Homo sapiens: one gene and its partner. The protein of the gene in region 1 interacts with the protein of each later gene in a pairwise test. Each region holds a gene or a part of one and is shown on either strand. Other genes may lie near its edges.

What was found. Proteins that work in one complex are often made in the same cells at the same time.
Region 2: the proteins of TMBIM6 (region 1) and ADIPOR2 interact in binary tests that used the Homo sapiens proteins (3 or more experiments, as listed by UniProt).

Annotation. Positions count from the first base shown.
Region 1 is NC_000012.12:49,744,429-49,748,078, forward strand, and holds part of TMBIM6 (bax inhibitor 1), read left to right. Parts: exon of another isoform or gene 1-114; intron 115-3,650. UniProt on the Homo sapiens protein: Endoplasmic reticulum (ER)-resident protein that confers cellular protection as an anti-apoptotic protein by limiting multiple stress-inducing pathways surrounding the endoplasmic reticulum and mitochondria.
Region 2 is NC_000012.12:1,693,946-1,697,595, reverse strand, and holds part of ADIPOR2 (adiponectin receptor protein 2), read right to left. Parts: intron 1-3,650. UniProt on the Homo sapiens protein: Receptor for ADIPOQ, an essential hormone secreted by adipocytes that regulates glucose and lipid metabolism. Required for normal body fat and glucose homeostasis.

The DNA of each region.
Region 1 (3,650 bases):
GCATGCAGCCCTTCGTAGTTTTTATACACATTTTGTTTTCCAAAGATGGTGTTCGAGACCAAGGAGAGAAAGGCTGTCTCCTTGACTTAAAGGTTACCTAAGTGACCCCTTGAGGTAGGTTCCACTCTGAGCCAGCTGGGGAATGTTGATTTGAGGTTACAGCACTCTTGATCTGATAATAGGGTCTAAATTTGCTCTAGAGACTTTGTAGTGCTTAAATCTTGGGGATAGCTGAGCTGAACCAGATGCAAGCTCTGCCCTCAGGGTGAGAAGTTTCTGCACAATTAACTGGAATCCAAAACACGTGAAAAAGGAGCTTCACCAGTGAGGGTGAAGTGGGTATGCTGTTTGTCTTAATTTATGTGTGCTCCCCATTTGGGCTAAATATGGTGTTATTAGGGAGGGATTACTGGTTTATACTGGAAGAAGATTATGTATTTAGGATTTTGGGGCCTTCTTAGGATTCAGTATCTGTCAAACGTTATAGAGAGGGAGATGAAGTAGTGTCAACGTTTGGTACAAAAAATAATTTACTGAAGGCAGTAGGCATTTCATCTCCAGTTACTGGTTTGGTTTTGAGGCAGCCCCCTGGAGGAGATGGATTCAGTATTAGCTAATCCAGGGATTTGGGTCCAAGTTAAGGGAGAGGCGGGGACATCTAGGGTGTCCACCTGGGAAGATCAAAGCTTGGTCCTAGTTGAATGAAACAATTCCTTGGATGGTTCCGAAACTGAACTGACCTACCTCCTGGGAGTGGCAGGGAAAGCATCAAGCTTTTGCGCATTTACTTCATCAAATCCTTTACCATATCAGATTATCACTTAGTGGCTATTAGGCTGTCTCAAAATGTCCATGGCCCTGTGGGACAAGAGAGATAGTATAAATGTGCTAGAAGAAAGGTATGCCATTTAAACAAAAGTACAGACGGGCCCCAATTTATGATGATTGGACTTAATGATTTTTTACTTTATAATGATGCAAAAGTGCTACCTGTTTGCTAGAAACTGTACTTCAGGCCAGGCATGGTGGCTCATGCCTGTAATCCCAGCACTTTGGGAGGCCGAGGTGGGCAGATCACTTGAGGTCAGGAGTTTGAGACCAGCCTGGCCAACATGGCAAAACCCTGTATCTACTTAAAATACAAAAATTAGCTGGGCATGGTGGCACACACCTGTAATCCCAGCTACTTGGGAGGCTGAGGCATGATAATCACTTGAACCCAGGAGGCAGAGGTTGCAGTGAGCTGAGATCGTGCCACTGCACTCCAGCCTGGGCAACAGAGCGAGACTCTGTCTCAAAAAAAAAAACCCAGCACATTTAGAATTTCCATCTTTTCCCAGACTAGGGATATCTGGTATGATATTTTCACATGAGATATTTAACACTTTATTATAAAGTAGGCTTTGCGTTAGATAGTTTTGCCCAACTTCAGACTAATGTAAGCGTTCTGGGCACATTTAAGGTAAGGTAGGCTAGGCTTAAGCTATAATGTTTGGTAGGTTATATGTAGTAAGTGCATAAATTACGATACTTTCAGTTTACAATGGGATTATTGGGATGTAACTTCATTGTAAATCGAGCATCTATACTTTTACCAGTAATGAGATTTTTCAAGTGCCTTTATGTTTCAGTTTATAATTTTCTTTTCTCTCTTTTTTTTTTTTTCTTTTTTGAGACAGAGTCTCACTCTGTCGCCCAGGCTGGAGTGCAGTGGTGCAATCTCGGCTCACTGCAACCTCCGCCTCCTGGGTTCAAGCCATTCTCCTGCCTCAGCCTCCCAAGTAGCTGGGATTATAGGCGCCCACCACCACGCCTGGCTAATTTTTTGTATTTTTAGTAGAGATGGGGTTTCATTGTGTTGGCTGGGCTGGTCTCGAACTCCTGACCTCAAGTGATCCGCCTGCCTCAGCCTCCCAAAGTGCTGGGATTACAGGCTAAAACTAGACTTTTAAAAGAGAATAATCTACTGAAGATATTGTAGTAATGAGTACACCAGTAATAACAATGTTAGTACACCAGTAATAACAATGGTTACCATGTATTGAACTCATTCTATGTACAAAGAGCTATTTTAAGAACTTTATTTGTATTATCTCACCTAATCTGCAACCTTAGGAAATAAGGATTGTTATGTACTAGTATTTTACACATGGTAGGTGAAACTGAAGTACAGTGAGGTTAAGTGCCAGCAGCTTGCTGCATGTCCCACTGCTAAGGAAATAACTAGGATTCAGAAGTAGCAGGCAGTCTTAACCACTATGCAGGGGACATGGTTATACAGTGTATGAACATTACTCAGTAGTAAAAACTAATGAATGGAAAGCTTTCTTGGCCAAAAACACAGAAGAAGAAGAAGAAGAAGAAAAAAAACTACTGACAAATTACTAACAGTTCTTCCCCCTCCTTTTTTTGTTTTTGTTTTTTTGAGACAGAGTCTGGCTCTGTCACCCAGGCTGGAGTGCAGTAGCGCAATCTCGGCTCACTGCAAACTCTGCCTCCTGGGTTCAAACGATTTTCCTTCCCTAGCCTCCTGAGTAGCTGGGATTACAGGCGCCCACCACCACATCTGGCTGATTTTTGTATTTTTTTACTAGAGACTGGGTGTCACCATGTTGGCCAGGTTGGTCTCGATCTCGTGACCTCAGGTGATCCACCCACTTAGGCATCCCAAAGTGCTGGGATTACAGGCATGAGCCACCGTGCCCAGCCCTTTCCCCTCTTTTAAACTATATGGGATTTTTCTTCTAAGTATCAATTTGGTCCCTTCTAGATATGTGGGAACAAGGTTCAGGATGGTTGAATTTATACAACAGGAAGAAAGAACCATGTAATTGACAAACTAATTTTTTTGTTTTAATTTTATAAAACGGTTTTGCTGTGTTGCCCAGGCTGGGGTGCAGTGACACATTTTTGCTCTGTTACCAGGCTGGAGTGAAGCAACATGATGATGGCTCACTGCAGCCTGAAATTCCTGGGCTCAAGCAATTCTCCTTCCTCAGCCTCCCAAGTAGTTGGGACAACAGGCGCACACCACCACACCCAGCTAATTTTTTAATTGTTTGCAGAGATGAGGTTTTGCTGTGTTGCCCAGGTTGGTCTGGAACTCCTGGGCTCAAGCGACCCTCCCACCTTGGCTTCCCAAAGTGCTGGGCTCACAGGTGTGAGACATTGTGCATGGCCTTTTTCCTTTTTTGTTTTTTGGAAGTGAACATAACCTTGAGACTTTATTGTCTTCATAATAAAACATAAACTGATATTTAATTAAATGTGCGAACAGTGTTTCTTTGACTTGCTGTTTTAATGTTGCTGTACACACTGAGGCAAAGTCTGTCTTGGCTCCAGCATTGCATAGAACGCATACTAAATCCACGATAGTTTTGTTTTGCATAGCTTTTGGCTACTTCAGCATGTTTCATGTTCACTGTAGCTCCTAGGTGTGTGGGAATAGGACTGAAGAGAATGGTTGTGTTTTTTTTAATTTTTAAATTTTTTTTACACGTAGTCTCGCACTGTCACCCATGGTGGAGGGCAATGGCGTGATCTCAGTTCACTGCAACCTCCGCTTCCCTGGCTCAAGCGATTCTCCTGCCTCAGCCTCCTGAGTAGCTGGGACTATAGGTGCCCGCCATCACGCCCAGCTAATTTTTGTA
Region 2 (3,650 bases), about 48 Mb from region 1:
AGAATAAAGTGGATATAGTACTGCAGAATTTCATATACATCGTGTTAAGAGACAGCAATGTAACTGCAGCCAAGATATCTTTGGATGTGATGACTGAACTCTACAAGAAACATCCGGACTGATGCCAAAACTGTCAATGTCATCACAACTGCATGTTTTGAGATATTGGTTGCCACCTTGACATTCTTCCTAGGATAAGATGAAGAAGAGAAACAAATAGGACAGACTCAGAATCTGAGGATAAAGTGACAAGAGACCTACAAGTGCAGTATGTCACTGGGAAGAGTGGCTCCAAACACAAAACACTGAAAAGGTTATGAAAAGTGCCCAGGAAACAAAAGAAGAAAAAACTCACAGTGTTTAACTTTTAAGCTATTAGCTTTATTCATGATCCTCAAAGTTTTACCAAAACACTCCTGAAGCACACAGCTAGAAATCTCTAAGCAGAGGTTTGAGTTAACATGATGCTCATAAATCTTATCTCCAGATTGGCAGAAATTCATAAGCCCTCTAACTTCTATGCCTTTGGGCAAAAGTTTCTGCTGCTGCACCACAGAGAAGTAACAGAAATCACTGTTTGCTAAACATGCATTTCATCACCTGTTAGTCCCAGAGATCACTCAGTTATTGCTCATGACTGTGACCATCCATTATGTTATGGACAAGAACTTTAGGGAAGACATGACAGTCCAAATCAGTGCTATAAGAGGTAATAGCTCAATGTCCCCTAGCCATGACAGAAGAACTTCCTCAAGACCTGTCCCAGTATAAAACACACAAGGATAAGAATATGATGCTGTCTACTATAACTGTGATTCAGTTCTTCCAAATCCTCAGATGATGCAGAATTCCAGGGTAAGCTGACAGAGGCCCCAGTAAAATCAACAGTGCAAGAATATGGCCAGGGACAATGGCTCCTGCCTGTTAAATCCAGCTATTCAAGAGGCTGAGGGAGGAGGATCGCTCGAGGCCAGGAGTTCAAGACCAGCCTGGACAACATGGCAAAACCCTGTTTCTACAAAAAATACAAACATTAGCCAGGCATGGTGGTGCATGCCTGTAATCCCGGCTACTTGGGAAGCTGAAGTGGGAGGATCACTTGAGCCCATGAAGCGGAGGTTGCAGTAAGCTACGATTGCACCACTGCACTCCAGTCTGGGCAACAGAGTAAGACGCTGTAACCAAAAAAAAAAAAAAGAAGGAAAAAAGAAAAGAGAAAGAAAAAGAGAAGGCTGAAAATGATAAAGATGGGTGGGGAAGCACCAGTCTCAGTGAGGAGGAGGGTGCTGCTGGTGAATCTGTTGACAAGTAGAAACTGCAAGAAATCTCCTAGAAGCTGAACAGCACCCATGGAGGAGTGAAAAGCCAAACTAAACGATGACTTCTAGAAAATCTGCATGGCTCAACTAAGGAAAAAATTCAGTGCTGCCCCCAGGGAAAGCCCAAGAGGAAATGTATTGAAATAGTGATAAGGAGCAAGTAATTTTTTCTAACATTGATGACAGTCATAAAAAGCCAAAGTCTGACAAGGAGACATGACTAGCAACTGCAATGGCTGGACAGACCAAAAAGAATTTATGAGGAAGAAAACCAAAATGAATCATTTTCCAAATCCAGAGATAAAGAGAAAAAAGAAGAACTTTGATGATTAGGTATAGCCAGAATGTCCCGTCAAAAAAAATAAGCATTCCTTTGGGGAAAAGCTGCTGCCACTATGAGATACACTTAAAAAAAAAAATAGAAAAATAAAAAGAGAGAAAAAGTAACATCCAAGCCAGCCTTCCATTCCCAAAATAAATTGTCATTAATCTGAAAATTAGTAAATCAAGAATGTTTACATTAGAAAGTCCAAAAGCACTATATCCTGAAAACCACCAAAAAAGGTGAATGACTGCTGAATGACGGGTTTCGTCATTTTTTTTTTTTTTTTTTGAGATGGAGTTTTGCTCCTGTTGCCCAGGCTAGAGCGCAGTGGTGCAATCTCGGTTCACTGCAACCTCCACCTCCCAGTTTCAAGCGATTCTCCTGCCTCAGCCTCCTGAGTAGTTGGGATTACAGGCGCGCGCCACCATACCCAGATAATTTTTTTTTTAATATATTTTTGGTAGAGAGGGGGTTTCATTCATGTTGGCCAGGCTGGTCCCGAACTCCTGACCTCAGGTGATCCACCTGCCTTGGCCTCCCAAAGTGCAAGGATTACCGACGTTAGCCACCACCCTCAGCCCACTTTTTTTTTTTTTTAAGAGACAGAGTCATGCTGTGTTGCCCAGACTGGTCAGAGTCATGCTGTGTTGCCCAGACTGGTCTCAAACTCCTAGCCTCAAGCAATCCTCCCACCTCAACCTCCCAAGTAGCTGGAACTACAGGCGCAAGCCACCACTGGGCTTGATCCCATTTTTGTAAAAAATAACTCTCGGCCAAGTGCAGTGGCTCATGTCTGTAACCCTAACACTTTGGGAGGCTAAGGTGGGAGGATCGCTTGAGCCCGGGAGGTCGAGGCTGCAGAGCCATGACGGCACCAGTGCACTCCAGCCTGAGATACAGAGTGAGATCTTAAAAAAACAAAACAAAAAAAAAAAAAAAACTGCAACACAAAGAATAAGCCCTATGTAAACTATAGACCAATAAATAACAACATATTGATATGGGCTCATCAAATGCAATAAATGTGCCAAATTAATGCAAGATGTTTGCAATAGGAGAAACGAGGGAAGGGAAGGGAATATGGGAACTTTCTGTGCTATCGGCTCAAATTTCTGTACATCTAAAGCTGCTAAAAAAAAGTGTAATTTTTAAATTCTGAATATGCAGACAAATCTGCAAATAATTACTTGTATATGCACACAAAGAGAGGTGAAAAGACCTATATCAAACTGTTGCCCCTGGTTATCTACAAAGGATGAAAACTGGAAACTAGCGCATGAGAAGGAATTTTTTTACATTATACAGTTGGCCCTCCATATCCATGGGCTCTTATGTCTGTGGATTCAACCAAGCTTGGATCCAAAAAGTTTAATATAGCATCTGTATTTGAAACATGCAGACTTTTTTTTCTTGTCTTTATTCCCCAAACAATACAGTATAACAACTATTTACATAGCATTTATATTCTATTAGGTATTATAAGTAATCTAGAAATGATATAAAGTATTTGGGAGGATATGCACAGGTTATATGCAAATACTATGCCATTTATATCAGAGATTTGAGCATCTGTGCATCTTGATATTCACCAAAGGTCCTAGAAGCAGTCCCTACAGACACCAAGGGATGACAGTATATCTCTGGACTGTCTAAACTTTCTACACTGAGCAATAATGTAAGTAGAGGCTCTGTAGCATATTGTTAAGAATTTGGGTTTCTCAAATCAGACTGCATGAAATCAAATCCTAGCTCCACCATTTGCTAGCTGATAAACTTCCAACAGTTACTTAATTTTTCTCCTTGCCTTAGTTTCCTCACCTGTAAAACAGAAATCATAGTATACACTCACAGAGCTGCCACAGCAATTAAATAATTTCATACACGTAAAGTAGTGGAAATTGTCTAGTACATAGTAAGTGCTCAATAAATGTTAACCAGCATCTTCATTACCAAGCATTTATTATTCCTGGATTTTCTTTTTAAATCTTGACTGGTAAGACTAATCA